Regions from separate parts of the Homo sapiens genome. Here region 2 is linked to region 1. The links come from fine-mapping of genetic effects on gene expression. A gene starts in region 1. The other region holds a variant in brackets. All regions are shown on one strand. Distances are from middle to middle.

Region 1 (12,366 bases):
AAACACTGATATTCAGTCACAAATATGGATAAACAGGGTTTCAAGATGATTCTTTAGAAATGTTCAGTCAGTAATTACAGCTTGATGAGTATGAAATTGTAAACTATCAAAGATACCACAGTAGGTAAATATTAAAGACATAATACATTCTAAAAAGTGGGTGAGGCTGAGCGCAGTGGCTCATGCTTGTAATCCTAGCACTTTGGGAGCTGAGGTGGGTGGATCACCTGAGGTCAGGGGTTCAAGACCAGCCTGGTCAACATGGGGAAACCCCGTCTCTACTAAAAATACAAACGTTAGAGTTTCTGTTTGGGATGATTAAAAGTTCTGGAGATGGATGACCATGATGTTTGCACAAAAATGTAAATGTACTCAATGTCATTGAATTGTACACTTAAAAGTGTTTAAAATGGTAAATGTTATATATATTTTACCACAATAAATAAAATATAGACTGGAAAAAAAATAAATAAAAATAAAAATAAAAATACAAACATTAGCTGGGCCTGGTGGCGGGCACCTGTAATCCCAGCTACTCAGGAGGCTGAGGCAGGAAAATCACTTTAACCTGCCGGGTGGAGGTCCAGTGAGCCGAGATCGCACCACTTCACTCCAGCCTGGGTGAAAGGGTGAAACTCCATCTCAAAAAAAAAAAAAAAATGGGTGAGGGATTTCGATCGAAGCTGTGGAATCTGCTCCAGATCTCAGGTTGCTACTATAGCATCTTGGGTAGATCACTCTTCTCCAGTAAGCCCTGGGCTTTCTCAAACCTTTTCTGTACAGGAAGCCTGTCCCTTCTGCCATCCTGGTCAACTCTGCCTACCAAATTCCTGCCCATCTTTGAAAGCGAAACCCTAACCTAGGCTCCCCTCCTTTGGGAAACTTCCCAAGGCCTCCCTCCATGCTACATGATCATCTTTTTTTTTTTTTTTTTTAAGACGGAGTCTCGCTCTGTCGCCCAGGCTGGAGTGCAGTGGCGCGATCTCGGCTCACTGCAACCTCAGCCTCCCGGGTTCACACCATTCTTCTGCCTCAGCCTCCCGAGTAGCTGGGACTACAGGTGCCCGCCACCACGCCCGGCTAATTCTTGGTATTTTTAATACAGATGGGGTTTCACCATATTAGCCAGGATGGTCTCGATCTCCTGACCTCGTGATCCACCCACCTCAGCCTCCCAAAGTGCTGGGATTACAGGTGTGAGCCACTGCGCTCGGCCGATCATCTCTTTTTACAGACTAGACATCCTTAATCACAAGTATCTTTTTTTTTTTTTTTTTTTTTTTTAAGACAGAGTCTCGCTCTTGTCGCCCAGGCTGGAGTGCAGTGGTGCAATATTGGCTCACTGCAACCTCCGTCTTCCAGGTTCAAGCTATTCTCTTGCCTCAGCCTCCTGAATAGCTGGGATTTCAGGTGCATGCCACCACACCCAGCTAATTTTTGTATTTTTAGCAGAGATGGGGTTTCACCATGTTGGCCAGGCTGGTCTCTCAATCCTAACCTTTGGTGATCCACCCGCCTCGGCCCCCAAAGTGCTGGGATTACAGGCGTGGGCCACCGCACCCAGCCAATCACAAGTATCTTTATAGGACATCTTTATTTTTTACAGAAAATAAAGTACTAGCAGAGTACTTGGCCTTCAGTCGTTATTTCTTTAGCCCATTAGTAATGAATAAAGAGGTTTCGCTAGCAAGAATGAAAGAAAGGACTAAGAGAAGCTCTACTATTTTCTGAAAGGTGATAAAACATACAATCAGATAAATTTCCTTTTAAAAAGACTTTCAAATAAATCTTTAGAACCTGCAAACCCTCCCACAAAGAAAATGTAAACACTGAAAGGTAGGAGGCAATTTTACTTTATATTTCTAGTATCACCACAGCTTTTCATTCAAACAAACATTGCCATGAAGTTAGGGAAATTCCTGCTGCATTCACTTGTTACTTTTTTTTTTTTTTTCAGTAATCAAGTTGAAGAAACACTTCCACTACTTAAAAAGGTACCTGCAAATTACTTTCACATTTGTTCAGCTATCCTAATGGGATTTTCACTTAGTAAATCTGCTACTCAGGTATCTGCTATACATATGGATTCAAAAGTGGATGATCACTTAATACGAGGGACTGAAAAAAGCAGGTTGGAACCAGCGACTCAGTTATTTCAAAACACCAAGAAAATAAGATTAGAAGACACAAATCAAGAAAACTTTACAAGGATTGAAGGGACTGGCACAGGATCTCTTTCTGGGAAAGCCTTGGGTTCAGTGGTATATGTCAAAGAAAGTGATGGACTAGAAATGACAGATGTGGAATGAAGCAATTTGTACGTATTACCAAAGAAACCAAAAACTGCCTTTGACTAAGGGGGGTGTTGAAAGAGAACTTAACCTTATTAGGAAACCCTGACAAAATGATGGAAGACTATTGCCTTATTTTGCACTATTTGTGAATCATCTTACACTGCATTTTTTTATGATGCTTATTCAAAAGGCAGTTGCTTTAGGGTGAAAAAGCCTTCCAAGATTCAAAGCAGATTTCTCTGGTATTATATTATATCCTTCTTAAAAACCAGAGTTTTTAAGTAACAGTATTTGAATGGCATCAAAACATTTTCATTTTAATGTATTTCTTTAACAAGTGGTTAAAAAAAGTGTCCAAGCAGCCGGGCGCAGTGGCTCACACCTGTAATCCCAGCACTTTGGGAGGCCAAGGCGGGTCAATCACCTGAGGTCAGGAGTTCGCAACCAGCCTGGCCAATATGGTGAGACCCCATCTCTACTAAAAATGCAAAAAGTTAGCCAGGCATGGTGGTGGGCACCTGTGATCCCAGCTACCTGGGAGGCTGAGGAAGGAGAATCGCTTGAACCCTGGAGGCGGAGGCTGCACTGAGCTGAGGTCATGCCATTGTACTCCAGCCTGGGCAACAAGAGCAAAACTCCGTCTCAAAAAAAAAAAAAAAAAAAAAAAAGTCCAAGCAATGTGACATCCGTATTTCACAATATTTCTGGTGTATCAGTTTTGTATGTTACATTTCCATTTTGGGATTCTGCTTTATGATACTTTACTTTCTTACATTTTGCATTTTTGTTCTGTAAAAGATCACTGCCAATAAACTGCAAAAGACCAATAAATTGCATATCTTCAGAAGGATTTCACATTTTAAATCGTGCCTTTAAAACTGCTTTTTCCCCCCACATAGAATCCATTTTAGAGTTAGAAAAGTGTTCTTTCCAAGTGTTAATAGTTTGTCTTGCAGATGGTACCATTTTATGTCACCAATATTTAATATGAGAAAAAACAACCTGTTTAAAAACCTTGTTTTGTATATCAGTTATGAAAATATCTGGTAGTTGGAAATCTCTTTAATATTCATTTTAAAAGAGGAAAGGGCATCTTTTCCGGGGGGAAGCTATATTTTATTAATCAGAAAAATACTAAACAAATGTGTTTGTAGGGAATATTGAGAGTGAAAAACAATTGTTGAATGGGACATAAGCCAAAAAGACAATGCTTTTTATTATTTACAGAACGTAATTCTTTAGAAGAGAAAAAAAATACATAAATCATTCATTTGTTCACCTAGCCTGGCACTGTGCTTGGTGCTGGAGATACAGTAGTGAATAAAATAGCCAGTGCCTTGTAGAGTTTTGTGCCTGTCTACTAGGAAAGACAGGAGATTATACAGTAATTATATAAGATGCAAATTGTGATATGCCATGAAGAAACGTATAGCATTCAGAGGGACATAACACAACACAAGACATACCACATAAAACTGATTTTTTTTAAGATGGTCTCACTCTGTTGCCCAGGCTGGAGTGCAGTGGAGCGATCATAGCTCAGTGCAGTGTCGAATTCCTGTTCTTAAGCGATCTTCCTGCCTCAGCCTCCTAGTAGCTAGGATTACAGGCATGTGCCACCATACCCAGCATGTTTTTGTATTTTTTTAGAGACAGAGTCTTACAATGTTACCCAGACTGGTCTCAAACTCCTGGCCTCAGGTGATCCTCCCACTGGGCCATAAACTTGATTTTAACGTGGGAAATGGGAAAGCGTATCTCAGGACATTTTTGAAAGCAAGTTGATTAAGAAAGTAAAGAAACAGAATGGCTACTCCATAGAGCAGCCTCTGAGGACATTTATAGCTTTTGCAGTGACATGGTTGTCTAAGTGAATGATGGTGATGGTCATAAAAGTGGAGAGAAGGGGATAGAGTCCAGGTGAAGTCTGACAGGATGTAGTCATGGTTTGGAAGCGGAAAGTGAGGAAGAAGAAAGGGCTTCTGGCAAAAAAGGCTTTAGCCTTTATGCATGCAGGATCCCTGGGGGGAAAGAGTGAGTTCAGGAGCATGGCTTTTAGACTTACCAGGTTTACAAGGCAGTTGTATCTATGGAACTAAAAAATATAAATTTTGAAGTTGTATACAGAAATGGTACTTAGAGCCATAGAATGAATGAAATTGCTTAAGGAAAATGTAGTGTGAGATAAAGATCTGAGGAACTCCAACATTTAGGGCTGACTAGATCAGGGTAGCTGGCAAAGGGGACTGCGGAGTTGGCAGTGAGGCTGGAGGAAAACCTGGCAAAAGGGACTGAGGAGTTGACAGGGTAATGTCAAAGTTGTCCACAGGAATCTCCAGGTTGAGGTAGTCAAATGAACACTTAGATGAATACTGAAAAGTCCAGTGGATCTAGCAATATGAATGTCACCCGTGACCTTAGCAAAAGCACTTTTGCTGGAATAATGGGGAAAAGCCATTTTGGAGTACGTTGAAACAATGAATGGGAAGTGAGAAAGTAGATACTGGATGTATAGCAGTTTTTCCAAGAAGCTTGGCTCAGAAGGGTAGCAGACAGGATGACAAGTGGAAAGAGAAATGAGGTCACTGGAGGATTGTTAAAGAGTACAGCATGTTTGAGTGTCACTTGAAAGGTTCCAGTGGAGAAGCTGAAGAAGTAGGTAAAGGTAAGAATAACCAAGGGACAGAAGTCCTGGAGCAGGGAGGAGGGAATGGGATTCTTTAAAACCTCTTCATCAAGAAACTAGGAAAAAAAACCAAAGTTGTACCATCTCAGATTTCAGAGAAAGGGAATTTAGAAGGAAGTAATATAAGCAAAGAGCAACAATATTCTGTGACTGTTTTTAATAATAACTAGGAAAATTCCTAGTGCAGTTAACTCTGAACAAAATTCATTCCCACCTGCATAATACAAGATAGACTTACTCAGAGTGACCTTGGTAAAAGGTGTGATAATAAAGAAAGGAGGTGTCATTATGTCTTCATTGTAGCTTTATATGAAGCCCTGGTCATTTACCGTATCAGCATCAGCAAACTGAACACTGAATGATTCTTACTCCAAGAGGCAAGTCTTAGTGGTTTCTATTTTAACTGAAGGAGAGATTAATTTCTGTGCAAGGTTGAAAAAGGTGACCACAAATTCTTTGGGCTTCTTTCATCAAGAGGTGAAGTCCATTACCCCACGCCTTAACTCTGGGCTGGCTTTGTTGTTGTTTTGGCCAATAGAATATGGCTGAGGCGCTGCTTCCAAGATTAGGCCTGAATTGAGATGCCCTAGCAGCCAGGCAGCACCTGCCAGAGCATGAATAAGGCTATCTTGGACCGCCCAGCGTAGCCAACCTGTGCTGAATGAAGCCACATGAATATGCCCAGGAGAAACTAGCAGAAGAATCACCCACCTTGCCCACGTTAGAGATATAAACCACTATTTGAGGCAGTTTGTTATGCAGCAAAACTTAGCCGAAACTATTACCTTGCTACCTTGACTGCTGGTGTAATTTCCCATCTCATGGAGTCACAGAGTTTTCTTGCCAACTGCAGTGAGTTGGCAAATGGGAATGATCAGTAGCCTCAGTGTGTTTTCTGATCCACTCCATCCTGTATTATCATCTGCGAATACCGTTTTTCCTTTAAATGCAATGTGTCTTTCAAAGCTGACTTGAATTTCTCACCTTTCGAGTTACCTGCCATTTGGACTCACTTATTTGGAGGAGATATGTAAAGACCCAGCGTAATACCTGTATGCTCAATAAAAAGTATTTGCTGGTACTCCTTCCTGCCCGTCGTGTGACCTGACTGCTCTGGGCTTCTGGGGGCTCCCCCTAAACTCGCTCCACGAAATGACCCCTCCAACCTGGCACGCCCGCTCTCCTACCTTCGCCCAGGGCTGGCCGTTATCTCTGTGCTGTCACGCGGGGAAGTCCCATCTGAACTGGGGCCTTATGACCTTCGGTACTTTTATTCGAACGTAGCCTGCGTCCCTGCCTGGAACCTGGTTCCCGCCCTGAAGGACCCTTACTTAGCACTCCTGCGGGCTGCCGGGACCCCACGGCTCCGCAGGCGGAGAGACTAGGCGCGATCCCTGCGCGCCCCTCCTTCTCTTGCGCTTCAGGGGGCCGGCCCTCAGGGGGCGGGGCAGCATCGCGCGCAAGGCCTGCCGGTTGCTCGGGGTCGTATGACGCACTTTTCCAGCTCGAGCCCTCACGAGGCCGTGGGTACGACCGGAAGCCGCAGGTGGGTGAAGCGGAAACGCTTCAAACCGGGATGTTGCGGGCCGTAGCGCGTGGGCGGCCGTGGGGTCTTGGGCGCGCGCGGTGTTTCTGGCGGTGGGTCAGGACTTGCGGGTCGCCTCCGCCGGTGTTGAAGCCTCTTGTGTGCACACTTTCTCCTCAGCACTTGGGACGACCTAATTTCACTGTTAGGAACGGTTGATCCCGAACACAGGAGGGAGGGTAAATATCGTAAAACATGTTGGACGCTAGCTGTGTGCACGCCCCCTGGGAGCCAAAAGGGCGAAGTAAAACATGCACACGACCGTAATGAGATTCTGAGTAAGTTGTATATCATTAGAGAGGGGACAAAATAATAGGGTCTTGGCGAGGTCTTATGAAGAAGCTGCGCCTGCCTAGAAAGATAGATGGGATTGTGCTGTTTTCGCTTTCAGTTCAGTGATGGGGAGCCGTGTTTGGCAGTGCAGAGGTAGCGAAGTGTCCCAAGAACATGGAAGGTAAGGAAGTCTTCCGAGGAAAAACTTCAAAAAATTAGTCATTAAAGGGTGAGAGTAGAAAGATTCAAAGTGATTTTGAAGGAACAAAATTTAACCAGAACTTCAAAGGCTTGACACTATCCCAACGACTGTGAAATATCCTGAAATACCGTGCATTACTCAGTCGGGGTCTGATCCGCTACTGGAGCATAGAATAAAAAAAGAGGGGCACACCTGTGCCAGATGAATCCACGCCTTCTCTAGGGGAGAGAGGGTATCCCGGCTTAAGAGCAGGGGCTCTCCTGAGTTAAGGAAGTGTCTTCCCCAGAGCCCATTCCGTCAGACGTTCATATCATGTAACTCAGTCCTTTTCTGATTATGTATTCACCAAGCAAACTTAAGAGTTGGCTTGTCACCAGACCTACAGTGAATAATTGCACAGGCTCATCTGAATATCTGATAGATGGTCTATAGTTCTCTTTGTAAATCAATAAGCTGGCAGTCAGGGATTTTTGGACATCCCTTTGTTTTCACTTTTTCTCACTCTGTGTGATTTTTTCTTATCTTTCGGGGTTCAACTGAAATGTCACATCCTCACTGAGGTCTGTTTATTGGTTTACGTGTTCAGGTGCTTAGAACAGCTTCTTGCATCTTTTCTCACATGATGCCTTTTTAATGAGGCTTAGCCTAACAACCCTATTTAAAATTGCAATGTAAGTTTTCTCACATACACAGTTACAATCCTCCCTTTATCAGCTCTACATTTTTTTTTAATAGACTGAATCTCGCTCTGTTGCCCAGCCCATCTCGGCCCACTGAAACCTCCACCTCCCGGGTTCAAGCGATTCTCCTGCCTCAGCCTCCCGAGTAGCTGAGATTACAGGCGCCTGCCACCACGCCCAGGTAATTTTTGTATTTTTGGTAGAGACGGGGTTTCACCATGTTGGCCAGGCTGGTCTCAAACTCCTGACCTCAGGTGATCTGTCCACCTTGGCCTCCCAAAGTGCTGGGATTACAGGTGTGAACCACCTCGCCCGGCCATCTACTTTTTTTAATAGCCCTCCTTATCACCTTTATTCATTTGACTCACTGATGATTCCCAAGTGCTAAGAACAATGTCTGTCATGTAATTGATGAAAACTTTGTTGAATTAATACCTTTGTTGTGTTTTATTCACACTGTATATACAATACCTGGATGAAGAGAGATATTTTTAGCACTATTAAAATACATGCATTGGCTCAATACATGAATTGGATCAATTCTGGAACCCTAACAAGATCACATTTTTGACCAAAGTCAATATCTTGGACTATAGTTAATTTATCAAGGTAAATGCCACTTTGATGTGTCTTGGTTAGGAATCTTTGTTCACTTGAGGGAATACATGGTATATGATAGGAACAGTAAGCACAGAATAGAGATGGGAAAGGGAGAACCCTGTCATAACAGTTAACATTTCATATTTGCCAAACATGAATGGCTTATGCATATTAACACATTTAATTCTCTCAACCATTTTATGACGTCTGAGGCCACTGAAGCAGCTAGAGGTTAAACCACTTCCCTAAAGTCATTAGTAAGTGGCAGAGCCAGGATTAAAAATTTAAGTCCTTAACTACTTTGCCATCCTGCCACACTCTGCACATGCAGACAAGAGTAAGAGCCTTAATCTTGGGAAAAGATATTTCACAAGATCTTTGACAATTTCCATATCCACAGACACCATCCAGCTTATTAGTGACCACCACTCCTATTTGTTACTTTCTCCTTTAAGGCTGCCCCTACCTGAACTCTGGATCCCAGTACCATCACTTTCTCAAGGACCTCCCTTCTCCAGTGTTGCCCTCTCTTGACTCCCCTACCAGCATCTAAACATGCTCAGATCTATTGCATCTTAAGTCCTCTCCTAACTCCACATTCCTTTCTACCTACTGCCCTAGCTTTTCCACTTCACAACTAGAATACCCTCATTGTATCCACCTTGGGCCTCCTATTTACTCAGTACATCTGGTTCTTACCAAGATCACTGATAACCTTCTTGATACTGTTTAATAGATCCTTTTCAACCCTCATCTTATTTGCTCAATCTTTGGCATTTGGCACTGTTGACCATCTTGTCTCCTTGAAGCTTCCATAATAGCATATTTAAAATTTTTCTGCCTTTTCTTCTATCCTCAGCTTCCTTTGGGAGCTCTCCCTCCTTCTTCTGTATGTCCGTTAAATGTTGCTGCTCTTCAGTCTTATGTCGCAGGCCCTTAAATCTTCTCACTGAACCACCTTCCTGTGGCCTCAGTTACCATCCATTGAGCTCTGTGCCGTTGGCCGCTAGTTCAACAGTCAAAATGAACCAATTATCTTAACCCCATACTTCCTCTTCCTATAAAATCTGTCCTAGGAAATTTCACCTCTTTGCCAGGCCAGAAATCAGGGCATAATATTAATAAAATAGTTAGCACATATTGTGTACTTTCTTCAGTGCCAGGCACTCTTCTAACCACTTTATATGTATTAGCTCATCAGACTCAGCCTGATAATATGAGATGAGTCCTGTCATTATCCACATATTAGATAACAAATCTGAGACATAGAAAAGTAATCTGCCTTAGGTCATTCAACTGATAAAGGATAGAGTTGGGATTTGAATGAGGGCACTCTGGTTTGAGCTTGTAATCATTATATCATAAAGGACATGATGCTTGACTTCTCTTTCTCTCACCCTAATTCAACCTATTGCCAAGTATTGTACATTCTCCATGCTTAAAATCTCTAGGCGGTGTCCCTGAAGTATAAATCCAAAGCCTTCATGCCTGTAATCCGAGTGCTTTAGGAGGCCAAGGCAGGAGGACTGCTTGAGCCCAGGAGTTTGAGACCAGCCTGGACAACAAAGTGAGATTCATCTCTACAAAAAAAAAAAAAAAAAAAAAATAGCCAGGCGTGGTGGCACATGCTGGCTAAAGGGGGAGGATTGCTTGAGCCCAGGAGGTCGGGGCTGCAGTGAGCCGTGATCACACCACTGCACTCCATCCTGGGCAATAAAGTTCAAGCATTTCACTTGGATTTAAGGTTCTTTATAATCTAACATCTACTTCTCTTGCCTTCTTATTAACTCCCCATTCTTGTATTCCTAATAACCAGCCAGTAGAATTAAATTATTTGCATGGGTCCTATCTCCTTTTCCACTAAGCTGTTGCACATTGTTAGAATTCTTTTCTTTATCCCTTTTATGTCTCAGCTTCAATGTCACATCCACTAATTAGAGCATTAGATGGCGCTCTACTGTACTTAACACCTATCACAGCATTTAGGACACTGTATTTTAATTATTGCCTTACTTGTTTTTTAGTATCTCCCACTAGATTGTGGAGGTACTTGTTTCTTGAAGGCAAGGACAGGTTCACCTTCTTTTCTTTTTTTTTCTTTTAGACGGAGTCTTGCTCTGTCGCCCAGGCTGGAGTGTAGTGGCACGATCTCGGCTCACTGCAAGCTCCGCCTCCCGGGTTCACACCACTCTTCTGCCTCAGCCTCCAGAGCTGCTGGGACTACAGGCGCCCGCCACCATGCCCGGCTAATTTTTTGTATTTTTAGTAGAGACGGGGTTTCACTGTGTTAGCCAGGATGGTCTCAATCTCCTGACCTCGTGATCCGCCTGCCTCGGCCTCCCAGAGCTGCTGGTACTACAGGCACCTGCCACCATGCCCGGCTAATTTTTTGTATTTTTAGTAGAGACGGGGTTTCACTGTGTTAGCCAGGATGGTCTCGATCTCCTGACCTCGTGATCCGCCTGCCTCGGCCTCCCAGAGTCCTGGGATTACAGGCATGAGCCACTGCGCCCGGCCAGTTCACCTTCTTAATGTCACTCATATCCATCCCCTTCTCTCTCTCTCTCTCTCCTACCGTACTTTAGGCCCTCATTATCTCTAGCATGGACAACTGCCTTAGTCCATTAACTGTTCCCCCTGTCCCTAGTCCATCCTTTATTTAATCCATACTCAACCCTGCAGAGGCAGATTCGTATAACAGCTGAGTTAACACTTCCTGCTTAACACTTCAGTGGATCTTAGCTGCCTTTTAAAAAGTCCAAATATTTTGGTTCATTACATGAATTTATCTCCTCCCATTTTCTATCTCCTTATTACCTTGTACCTAGTAGGAACTCCATAAATACTTGTTGAATGAATATGGTACTGTGTCAAAGTCAGTCAAGCAGAACCAAGAACAAAGAGGTTAACCAAAGTAATGCAGTCTCGGTTGCGAGGCTTCCTAGGACAGTATAGCCATAGGCTTAAGTGGAAGTCGAAGACTAGTAGTGTAACTCTTTCTCTTAGGAGGGAATCCCCAAACATACCTTACTATTAGATGACTCTTTGTCTTTGCATATGCCTGGAATATGCTCCTCGACCTGGCAAACTTATCAGATTTGGTGACTCAGTTCAAGTATTCCTTCCTCTATTAAACCTCTCCACACCTTTCTAGACAGAATGTAAACTGATTCAACTTTTTGTAGGTTAGTTTATAAACTACAACAAGAGTGATGAAAATATGAAGACTCTTTAATCTAGAATTGTACTTCTAAGATATTACTTAACTAAATGATTTGGGGCCAGGTGTAGTGGCCCATGCCTATAATCCCAGCACTTTGGGAGGCTGAGGCAGGAGGATCACTGAAGCCCAGGAGTTCAAGATCAACCTAGGCAACGTAGGGAGACCCCCATCTCTACAAAAAATTTAAAAATTAGCCAGGCATGGTGGCGCATACCTGTAGTCCCAGCTGCTTCAGAGGCTGAGATGTGGAGATTGCTTGAGCCCAGGAGGTCGAGGCTGCAGTGAGACAATTACAGAGTGATACCCTGTCTTAAAAATAAAAAATAAAAAAGCCTAGCTACCTAGTTATGAACTTTCTTTATTTAGAACCAAACTCTTAACCTCAAGTTATACACTTTAATAATCCATTCTATTCCCAGTTCTTCAACCTGAAGGAAAATTATATTCTAAGAAATAGAATTGGAATAGAATGATTTAAGACCATAAGTAATCAAAATACTTCATTTTCATAGCTAGTATTTTCAACCTTTTGCTGCCTAATATTTCATTAGCAATGGTAACATGAATAATGTGGAAAGCATCCAAACATAGTGAATTTATTCTTAGCCTTTGTATATAAACCTGCATACTCCCAGTTGCCTCTCTCTCTGACCTCAAGGGTTCATCCTAAGTTAATATTGATCTAAATAAAAGTTATGCTGCCAGTAAATCATATATCCCAAAGTCAAACAGGAAATTATTTTTAAAGTGTTATAAAGACATAATGAAAGCTTTCCACGGAAATGTTCATGAACACATCGTTGATAACCAGAAAAACTAGAAG
Region 2 (11,534 bases), 29 kb after region 1:
TTTTGTACCCTTTGACCAACCTCTCCCCATTCCTCCTACCCACTGCCCTTCCCAGCTTCTGGTAACCACTATTCTACTCTCTACTTCTATGATATTAACTTTTTTAGATTCCACATATGAGTTAGATCATGTGGTATTTGTCTTTCTGTGTCTGGCTTATTTCACTTAACAATTTCCTACAAGTTTGTCCATGTCACAAATGACAGGATTTCATTTTTTATGGCTGAACAGTACTCTACTGTATATATGTGCCATATTTTCTTTATTCATCTGCTGATAGACACTTGGGTTGATTCCCTATCTTAGCTATTATGAATAGTGCTGCAGTAAGCTTGGGAGTACAAATATCTCTTCAACATAATGATTTCATTTCCTTTGGATATATACCCAGTAGTGGGATCAATGGATCATATGGTAGTTCTCTTTTTAATTTTTTGAGGAATCTCCATACTGTTTTCTATAATGGCTATACACACCTCTTATTTTGATTCCAGCAGGAGCTCCTTAATTGGTCTGCTTAACTTCAGTCTCTACAGGTTAATGTCTACTTTACATCCTTGCCATATTCAGTCCTTTATTCAAGAAATATTTATTGAGAACTAACAACATGCCCAGCACTGTTCTAAGTGCTGTGGATACAGCAGTTCGTAAAACAGACAAAATTCTCTTCTATTGTTCAAGTAGGAAGAGAACAATAAAAATAAATTGGCAAAACATGTATATTAGATTGAGGTAAGTGCTATTAAATAAAATAATGAAGGAGGACAGGGAGTGCTGGGATGGGGTTATAATTTTACACTGGAGGTCTGGGAAAGCCTCACAAAGAAGGTGGTATTTGTGTAAAGGCCTGAAATAGGAGAGAGAGTGTGCCATGCAAATAAATATCTGTGAGAAAAGAGCACATTCCTGAAAGAGACAAGCCCTGAAATGCAACTCCAATTATGTTACTCCTTTGTAAAAACCTTAAATGGTTTCTCCTTGCCTGTGGAATAAGTTAAAATCTCCTGGTAGTCAAGGCCATCCTCAATGTGATCCAAGCCCCTATCTACCTTTAAACTTTACTTCTCACTCTTCCTCTTCAGATACATGCTCAACCAAACTACTTATTTCGTAAGACAGCACAGGAATTTGAAGACTCTTAGATGAATTTCTGACTTCTGAAATTATTTTTCCTCCAAAGCCCCAATCAAACTCCACCTCTACCTTTCCACCCTCACATGACCTTTAACTGTTTAAATCCTCATTGCGTTTATCTATAGATATCTCTCTCCTGGCACTTATTCCCTGTATTAGCGCTATTTGCATTTTGGTCTTAACCCATCTATGTGACATCATTGTCTCTGTAACCTCTACGGGATCAGTGAAGCACCCTAGAGCAGAACTGTGATTCTCCTGCTTCAGATTCCTAGTGCAGCCAAAACTTGAGCAGTGTTCCACCTGACCAACACAGTACACCATCTCTCTTTTGGGATTCAGTATACCAGAGTCGTTGGGGCCTTGGGCTCCGACTGTGACTCTACCACCTCCTAGTGGCAGAACTTGAAAGCGAACAATACTTTTTATGCTGTAAAACGAGAATACCATCAACTCCTACTTGATAGGGCAATTGGTACGGATGAAACGAGATCATGCTTTTAATGTTTTCTGCAATGCCTGGCACTCAGCACTGAAACGTGATATCTATGCTTATTGCTGTTGTCACTGTCATCATTATCATCAAATAATGCCCCAGGCAAGGTAGAGTTTACAGTTATTTTTTCTTTTTTTTGAGACGGAGTCTTGTTCTATTGGCAGACTGGAGTGCAGTGGCGCGATCTCGGCTCACTGCAACCTCCGCCTCCCGGATTCAAGCAATTCTCCTGCCTCAGCCTCCCAAGTGGCTGGGACTACAGGTGCGTGCCACCATGCCCGGCTAATTTTTGTATTTTCAGTAGAGACGGGGTTTCACCATGTTGGCCAGGATGGTCTCGATCTCTTGACCTCATGATCCACCTGCCTCGGCCTCCCAAAAAAGTGCTGGGATTACAGGAGTGAGCCACCGCGCCCGGCCGGTAGAGTTTGTAGTTCTGACCAAAGCACCAAACCATAAAGGGCTCCCCTCTGCTGCCCCAAAGCTTCTGTAACACTTTAATTATAAGAAGCTTAAACTAGAAAGAACAGAGGGAGCTTAGTCCAGACCGGGAGTGTCGGGGGTTGGGGAGCAGGAGCTGATCTTATCAATTTAATACATAAATATTGAGTGTCTACTGTGAGCCAGGGTTGTGCTGGGTGTTAAGGAATATTTGGGTATTTCTCAACATTGAATAATACGAAAAGTCTCACTTGTCTCCTCCACAACCCTGCGCATTTCTCACACCGAACCTCATCCGTTTAAGAAAAACTTTTCTTCTTCTACCGCTACATAATTTTACTTTGGCTTGCTTTAAATGCAAATGTTTAAACAGAAAATTAAAAATAATCGTATAATAAACACCCTTATTACCCATCACCGAAATTTTTAAAATTAGCATTTTTGCTCAAATAGAGCTTCGATTTTTAAGAAATTTTTGCTTAAGGAAAATTAACTAAAGACATCATAGCATCTCTTTCTAAAACACTTTGGTCTGCATCTCTAAAAATTAAGGAAAGTTTTGGAAAAAAAATCATATTGCCTAAGAAAATAATTTTAATGCCCCCCAATCTATATTCAAACTTTTCTAATAGATCCAAAAATGTCTTTTAAAGTTCGTACAAACCCAGGTCCTATCAAAGCTTATATATTACATTGCGTTATATCTTATATCTCTTAAGTCTTTTAAAATCTAGACTAGTAGCCTCCCCACCTTTTCTAGGTAACATCAATCTATTAAAGATCTAAAAGAAAGCGGCCCAGTTGTCCTATAGAATATCCCACCTTCTGTATTTAACTGCTTCTTCGTGGTGTGGAAAAATCATTTTTAACTCTTTCACTTCACCCCAGACACAGCAGGAACCAGCTCCTTTTCCTCAGGTCCTCCCCGCCTTGGCTCATTGCTCACCTTTCAGAACCTGCAGGAGCAGATCAATCCCCTCTTGGTAACACACCAGAGCCTGCGGATACCGCGACTCCGAATCTAGTTCTACTGCCCGCTTTAGCACAGTGGCTGCAGCTGTGCTCTGCGGGTCCTGCCTCAGCCCGGACTTCGCCATAATTCTGGAAGTTCTCCTCCGCCTCAACCCAGGATGAAGTTGAGCGGGTCTGCTGCGCTTCCGGGAAGTGGTCATGTGATACCCAGGCGCCTGCGCTCTCTTTCTAGGGACTTTCCTGAGTGGGAGGGATTTCGCCGGAACAAAAATGCCTCAGTTTGGAGGTCGCGCTCACTGCGACGGCAGGCTTTGAGTGTAGCACTTGGTAGTTCTTCCTCTGCTCTGCTTCCCTTCGGAGGAAAATTTCAGGCTGAAGGTTTAGCGGGTGCCGGTGAGTGGGGAATGAGTGGCGGAGAGTGCGGCATTCTTCGCAAGGTGTATCCGGGAACCCTCTGCAGATCCTAATTGATTTTCCCTATTGCGTACTGAATTGGCCGGTTACGGCAACCTAAATGGGTCTGCCCCTGATCCCGTCACATTGGCTCCCGTAAGGCCATTGGCCTGCAGGATCCCCCCGTTTCCCAATTTGCAGGATCCAGGGCCACGCGGCTTTTTGTGCCCAGACTCTTGGAGCTCAAGAACGGAGCCGCCGAGGCTGGACAGCTTGGGAAAGGGAACCCAAGCAGCATTTTCTGTGCTGCTGCTTTATTCATAACTTAGGGTTGCCACTGGGTATTAAGGTTGCTTTTTTTTTTTTTTAATGAAGACAGAAAATTGCCTTTATCTTTGTATTGCTTCATTTTATAATGCAAACATCCAAGAGTTGGCAGTTAGAATATTTGCCATTTTATTAAAACTGTGATTTGTTACCATTTTGATCGAGACCTACCAAAAGCTGTTTGTTCTGCCCTTTTTGCCAAGAGGCAGTAATGAGGGCTGCCTACTGCTTGTTAGGCACTAGGAGTTCAGAGAAGAGACACGCTTCCAGCTTTCAGAGATCTCTGGTATCTCTGCAAGAGTGATTCCATGTTTTGCATTTCAGAAGTGTTTTTCCCCCTTTAATAATTGTATACATTGTCGGTTTAGAAAAAGAAATCGATTTTTAACATTCCTGTTGCATGCATGCTCATTGTAAAAAGACAAAAGAACTATCGGTCGCTGGGGGGGAGAAGGGGGAGGAAAAACGCCTTTTTTCATACCCCCAGGGGTATGTTAACGTTTTTCTGACAACCTTCCAGAGTTTTTCTGTGATTACACACGTTCACAGACATTTAAAAAAATAGAAATGGGATCATACTTCTCCTGTGATGCCTGATATTTTCCTGTTTTACAGAAGACAGCGTAATTGTTTCAGGGTCCAGGAGTTACGTGCCTAATTATTAACAGTAACTTTTACTTTATTAAAACGTATTCCTTGCCGGGCGTGGTGGCTCACGCCTGTAATCTCAGCACTTTCGGAGGCCGAGGCGGGAGGATCACGAGGTCAGGAGATCGAGACCATCCTGGCTAACACGGTGAAACCCCGTCTCTACTAAAAATACAAAAAATTAGCCGGGCGTCCGGGCGGGCGCCTGTAGTCCCAGCTACTGGGGAGGCCGAGGCAGGAGAATGGCGTGAACCCGGGAGGCGGAGCTTGCAGTGAACCCAGATCGTGCCACTGCACTCCAGCCTGGGCGACAGAGCGAGACTCCGTCTCAAAAAAATAAATAAGATAAAATAAACGTATTCTTTGAGTCAAACGTGGTGACACACACCTAGCTCCAATTACTGGGAAAATTGAGGATTGCTTGAGGCTGAGTTCAATACCAGAAACATAGCGAGACTCTGTCTCTAAAAACTTGTAACTTTTGACTATCACA[C/A]CTTCAGAAGTCTGTAAATATTTAAACTTCAGTTATTCTGCAAAAATATATTATATGTCTGCTATAGGGCAGATACCGCTTTACACAGATGTTTGGGATACTTCTATGAATATAACAGACCCAAAACAACAAAATCTAAAAACCCTTTTCCTATGGAATTAGCGTGCTATTGAATGTACATGCACTAAACAACAAAACCTAACAGATAATTAAGTTACGTTAGAAGATAAGCACGATAGAAAGCAGTGAAGAGGAATTGGGAGTGTTGACAGTTGGGGTATGGGTGAAAATGTTAAATGATGTGATCTGGGTTGACCTCATTGAAAAGGTGAGATTTGACCCAAAAATTGAAAAAGATAAGGAAATTAGCCATGTAAATATCAGGATCATTCCAGGAGAGGGAATGGTCAGTCAAAGGGAGCATGCCTGCTTGACTAGTTCTAGATCAAACAAGGGGGGCAGCATGTCTGGTGATTGAGCAAGAGAGTAATTGGAGATGGAGTCCTGGAGGTGGGGAAGGTTGGTAGTGCTGTACTACAAAGACATGAGAGGGTGAGGGTTAAGAATTAGAGTTGGGGGTGGTGGCCCATGCTTGTAACCCCAGCACTTTGGGAGCCCAGGCGGGCGGATCACCTGAGGTCAGGAGTTCAAGAGCAGCCTAGCCAACATGGTGAAACCCCGTCTCCACTAAAAATACAAAAATTAGCTGGACGTGGTGGCAGGTGCCTCTGATCCCAGCTACTCAGCAGGCTGAGGCAGGATAATCGGTTGAACCCAGGAGGCGGAGGTTGCAGTGAGCCAAGATTGGGCCACTGCACTCCAGCCTGGGTGACAAAGCGAGACTCTGTCTCAAAAAAAAAAAAAAAATTGATTTTCACTGTGATCAAAATGGACAAGCATTGGAGGTTTTAATTTTTTCATAAATAAACTTTATTTTTGAATAGTTTTAGATTTTCAAAGAAGTTGTGAAGATGGTATGGAGTTTCTGTATATGCTACACTGTTTCCCCCTTTCATGTTTGGTATACCTGTGTACAGTTGATGAACCAATATTGATACGTTATTAAAGTCCATACTTTATTTAGATTTACTTAGTTTTTGCCAAATGTCCTTTTGCTATTCCAGGATCCCATCCAGGATACCACATTACATTTAATGGTCATGACTTCTTCCTTAGGCTCCTCTTAACTGTGACAGTTTCTCAGACTTTCCTTGTTTTTGATATCATTGACAGTTTTGAGGCAGTTAGGTGTTTGGGAAGATACTGGAAGAGAGTACCTACATAAATTATTTGGAATTCTTCTGAATGGGATATTTGTTCTTTCTCATTAACTTATTCACCTATTTATATTAGTATGAATTTAGGGTTATTTATTTATTTATTTTGGTTTGGATTATAAGCCAGTAATACTTTGTTACTTATTTTGTTGCTGAAATTGTTCCAGCTTTGGGTACAGTTGACTGCAGTGTCACTTTGACATACCCCATCGTTATGTTTTTTCCAGTAGTTCCTTTCTAGCATTACAAAGTGCTCCAGACATAATCAGCCATTTCTCAAAGGAGCACTGGTTCCTTTTATTAAAGAATGCAGCCAAGATCTGGGCACTGGGTGTGCTCCTTGCCACTGAGTGCTAGTGCTTTAAGTCCTCTCAGCTAACAGAGCTAGCCCATGTATATATGCATATCTGTAATTACTTCTATATCCCTCAATAGCTATATTAAGCTAAACATGAGTTCCATTTCCAATCTAGTATATAAGGATCATTGTAGCCTTCCCCTCTTGCTTATATGTAACCTCCCACTTCAACAGTGAGAATCCTGGCTCTCTGGAAGATTTTTGAGCAGAGTGACATGATCTAAGATTTAATGAGATGATTTATTGCTGATATACAAAAAAGATATTAGGGGAATTGGAATGGAAGCAGAAGTCCAGTTAGGATTTTGTTGAGATCTAAGTGATCAGAAAGATTTTTTAAAGTGTGAAGCTAAGTATGTTGGATTAAGTACCTAACCTTGATACGAGGAAGTCTGGTAAAATAATTTAGCATTAGATAGGTTCAGTTGCTGAGGAATGTTTCTGAGGTCTGGCTGTCTTCAGGAGATGTCTTGCGTTGATTCTCACAGTTCCGTTGCTTTATCCACATCACAGGAAAGACTTGCAGAACTTGAATGAGCTAGAATCTGCGGGACACTGAATTACAACACTTAGCCTATTTTAGTGTGTTAGAGCAGAGGTCTCCAAACCCCAGGCCTTAGACCCAGACCATTTGCTGGCCCATTAGGAACCAGATGGCACAGCAGGAGGTGAGCTGTGGTTGAGTGAGCATTACCACCTGAGCTCCACCACCTGTCAGAGCAGTCCAACATTAGATTCTCATAGGAGCGTGAACGCTACTGTGAACTGTGCATGCAAGGGATCTAGATTGCATGCTCCTTATAAGAATCTAATGCCTGATGATCTGAGGTGAACAGTTTCATCCGGAAACCTTCCCTTCCACCCCTCCCTATCTGTGGAAAAATTGTCTTCCATGAAACTGGTCCAGTGTCAGAAAGGTTGGGGACTGCAGTTTTAAGAGTATTCTTATTAGCTTTGTAGTAATTTAATAATAATAAAAGCTACTATTTATTGAGGGCTTCCCACATGCCAGGTACTGTTTTAGGTGCTTTGTAGAATAACTCATTTGCAAGACAGGTATTTTCTTTCTTTTCTGGGGGAAAAATTGTAACGCACGAATTAAGTAACCTGTCCGAGATATACATGTAGTTCATGAACTTAATCTTTCTGCTATCAGTATAAGTCAGTATAGTAGGCTACAGTTGTTTTGTGTGTAATTAAATAAATATGACCTTTTTAGGTTATAGAAGCAATGCGTGTGCATTGAGAATAGTTTAAAAAGTACAAACAAGCAAAAAAAATTCTACTTTTTAACAGAAAGGTGTTATGATTTAGTGAAAATGCACTTGCCTAGGAATTAGGAGAATGGGGTTCCAGACCACAAACTTTATTGATAGCTGGATGCACTTGGATAAGTTATTGAACTTTCTGGAATTCATGATCCTCATTCATAAAGTAAGGATGTGGGCAGTCAGTTCTAATTATAGGAGTTGGAATTTCTTCAGTCCCTTCTAGCTCTTTAATTTTCTGTGATTCTATGGCAAAGCATTCTTTATCTGCCTTCATTGTTGAAGAAGACACTTTAAATGATAGTAATTTTGTGGAATCAATCTAGGACTGACTCATTTGATGAAAGTGGGATGTGGCTAATGTGTATAATTACTACCTGTGGTTGAATAAAACATTTATAAATTAATTCGTGCCCTTATTATATTAAAATAACCAATAATTTTACTGTTAAGTTTACAATTAATTTGCTGCTTAGTTTTTTAATACTAGAGAAGGGGAAACCTGTTCATTTCCAAGACATAGTTGACTGATGGGTCTACTTCCTACTTCCCACAGCCTCTAAAGAGAGCAATCACTACACTTATGGCTGGGATTTTGCGCTTAGTAGTTCAATGGCCCCCAGGCAGACTACAGGTAAGTGTTTCTTTTCAAGAATTTGTCTTTTCTACCCCTTATGAATTTTTTTTTTAATCATTACAAGGCAAGCTAAGTTCTTTTTTTTATTTTTTTGAGACGAAGTCTCTCTCTGTCACCCAGGCTGGAGTGCAGTGGCACAATCTGGGCTCACTGTAGTCTCTGCCTCCCTGATTCAAGCAATTCTCCTGCCTCAGCCTCCTGAGTAGCTGGGACTACAGGTGTCTGCCACTATGCCTGGCTAATTTTTGTATTTTTCATATAGTCGGGGGTTTCACCATATTGGCCAGGCTGGTCTCCAACTCCTGACCTTGTGATCCACCTGCCCCGGCCACCCAAAATTAAGTTATTTCACCAGTTCCTTTTCGAAATGGTTTAGATATTGAGAGTTAATCTTGTTTATGTATGGTTTTTCTGCTGTTTTATCCCTAAAGATCTAGAATCAAAAAAGATCTTTTTCTGGAAAACATGCCAATAAAAAATGGCTGTCATTGATTCCCCTTGGTCTGTCTTAATCTTAAAGTTTTAGGTTGTTTTTCCCCTTAGATTATGGAAGGAGTGCATTTTCAATAATAAAATATTAGAAAAATATAGAAAATCAGAAGGAAGAGAAATAATCTGTAAGAGACCCTCAGTGTTAGTATTTTCATGTGTCTCCTTCTAGGCTTGCTTTTAGAAAGTGCAGTGGTGCTGCCTAATCTGCTCATAAGGGCCAGAGCCTAGATGAGCCTATTGACCTGCTCCTGGCTGCAGAGGACAACAATGTAAGGGGCTTTGTATATATTACCTTAACCTCAGATTAATCCTGTGAGGTCAATATGAGTTCCTTTTTAGAGCTGAGGAAACTGACCCTCTGAGAGAGTAAGTGTCTCATGTCTCACAGCTGGTAGGCAGCAGAACTCAGCCCAGTGCCTGTCTTCTAGTGGTTTATGCCATCTCTGCAATGCAGGAAATGCTGGGAGGGAATGATGGGAATGACTGTTGCCCATTCCCACAGCAGTATCCTGGTATGAAAGGTTGGCAGTGAATCCTTTTTCTTCAGCAGCCTGAGAGAAATGGGATTGGAGGAATGTAGAGCAGGAACAAGAGGTAGGAACTAGGAGTGATGACATTGTTAGAACTAGGAGGGAAACTAGAAACTCATTTTGGATTTCTTTTGTATTGTCTTGTTAAATGTGAGTTATTGCACATTGTCTAGAGCAAGAGTTGATAAACTATGGCCTTTAGGCCAAATTCAGCCTCCCACCTATTTTTGTAAATAACAGTTTTATTGAAAAATATCCACACCCGGCTGGGCGCGGTGGCTCACGCTTGTAATCCCAGCACGTTGGGAGGCCAAGGTGGACGGATCACGAGGTCAGGAGATCGAGACCATCCTGGCTAACACGGTGAAACCCTATCTCTACTAAAAATACAAAAAAAAATTAGCTGGACGTGGTGGTGGGCGCCTGTAGTCCCAGCTATTCAGAAGGCTGAGGCAAGAGAATGGCGTGAACCCAGGAGGCAGAGGTTGCAGTGAGCCGAGATTGCGCCAGTGCAGTCCAGCCTGGGTGACAGAGCGAGACTCCGTCTCAAAAAAAAAAAAAGAAAAGTTTGCATATTGTCTGACTGCTTTTACCCTGTGATGGCCAAGCTGAGTTTTGGCAATGGAGACTACATAGCTCTAGAGCTGGAAATGTTTACTATCTGGTCCTTTACAGAAAACGGTTACCAATCCGTGGTCTAAAAGTATATTTATATGCTTTTAGCTTTATATTATGTTAGTGCTTAGATGGGATGCGTTCACTCAGCTAGGGAGCTAAGATATACCTTTAATAATTATAGGGTAGGTTGGAACAGACTTCTGTTACCTAAAGATTGGTGGGTATGGATTTCTCTACTGACAGAATTCTAAAAAACAAATGATTTATATCATATTTTAGACTGTGACAAAAGGTGTGGAGTCTCTTATTTGTACAGATTGGATTCGTCACAAATTCACCAGATCAAGAATTCCAGAAAAAGTAAGAACAAAGTTTGATTTTTTTAATGTTAGTGTTGTTTTAAAAAATGTTTTAAGTGGTACCCGTTTTTGTAATATTGGAAGATTTTATGTTAAATTATATGTGGATGTAGGTGATGGTACAGAGTTTAAAGCATAGTGGGATTTATGTGAATGGTGATCATAAAAATAAAACTGTTCTGTCACTTGTGTCACTGGCCTTCACAGTAATGGGTTTTTATTATTTCAGTCTACTTATTCCTGCTTGTGGTTTGTACATGTGTGTTGGTATCACCATTGTCCTGAGAAAGCAGTGGGTCTTCCTACTCAGGCTCTCACTGTGTCACTCTTCATTTTCACTTTCCGTATCGATCATTGTTACTTTGGATCTTTCAGCTTTTTCTATTTCATTTCTGTGTACCTATCATTCTTTTAGATAATATTGACTAAGCCCGCCATTGATTTTTGTTTAAAATTTTTTTTTAAAGAGAGTTTTGCTTTGTTGCCCAGGCTGGAGTGCAGTGGTGCAATCTCATCTCACTGCAACCTCCGTCTCCCGGGTTCAAACAGTTTTTGTGCCTCAGCCTCCAGAGTATCTGGGACCACAGGCCCGTGCCACCACACCCGGCTAATTTTTGTATTTTTAGTAGAGATGGGGTTTCATCATGTTGCCCAGGCTGGTCTTGCACTACTGATCTCAAGTGATCCACCCGCCTTGGCCTCCCAAAGTGCTGGGATTACAGGCGCCTGGCCTGTTTTTATTTGTTTTTTAATTAATAGTCTTTATTTCTTAAAGCAGTTTTAGGTTTGCAGAAACATTGATTGGGAAGTATGGAGAGTTCCTATGTGCTCCCTCCGCCCAGCATATACAGTGTCCCCCACAACTGATGAACCAACGGGACACAGTATTATTAACTAAATACCATAGTTTACACTAGTGTTCAGTCTTCATGTTGTGAAGTTCTATGGGTTTTGACAAATGCATAATGTCATGTATCCACTATTACAGTATTATACAGAATAGTTTCACTGCCCTAAGTATCACCTGTGGTTCACCTATTTATCCTTCCCAACTCCTAACCCCTGGCAAGCACTGATCTTTTTATTATCTC

The links.
Region 2: its variant is fine-mapped to the expression of TSGA10 in whole blood (INTERVAL, PIP above 0.99).

Annotation. Positions count from the first base shown.
Region 1 is chr2:99,148,526-99,160,891 of GRCh38, forward strand. TSGA10 (testis specific 10) reads right to left here and starts at 6,417. Exons shown (of 21, transcript NM_025244.4): 1 at 6,168-6,417. It overlaps C2orf15 (chromosome 2 open reading frame 15), which reads left to right. Exons shown (of 4, transcript NM_144706.4): 4 at 1,958-3,144. The coding sequence starts at 2,034. The coding sequence ends at 2,309. LIPT1 (lipoyltransferase 1) reads left to right here and starts at 6,442. Exons shown (of 2, transcript NM_145199.3): 1 at 6,442-6,526. RefSeq lists enhancers at 6,049-6,670, 6,060-6,259, 6,320-6,549, 6,580-6,779, 6,860-6,939 and 1 more.
Region 2 is chr2:99,177,814-99,189,347 of GRCh38, forward strand. MITD1 (microtubule interacting and trafficking domain containing 1) reads right to left here and starts at 3,245. Exons shown (of 7, transcript NM_138798.3): 1 at 3,018-3,245. The coding sequence starts at 3,168. MRPL30 (mitochondrial ribosomal protein L30) reads left to right here and starts at 3,371. Exons shown (of 6, transcript NM_145212.4): 1 at 3,371-3,436; 2 at 8,364-8,441; 3 at 10,364-10,444. The coding sequence starts at 8,391. RefSeq lists enhancers at 2,913-3,052, 3,063-3,292, 3,313-3,362 and a silencer at 3,580-3,752. The variant C/A (reference allele first, on the strand shown) is at 4,905.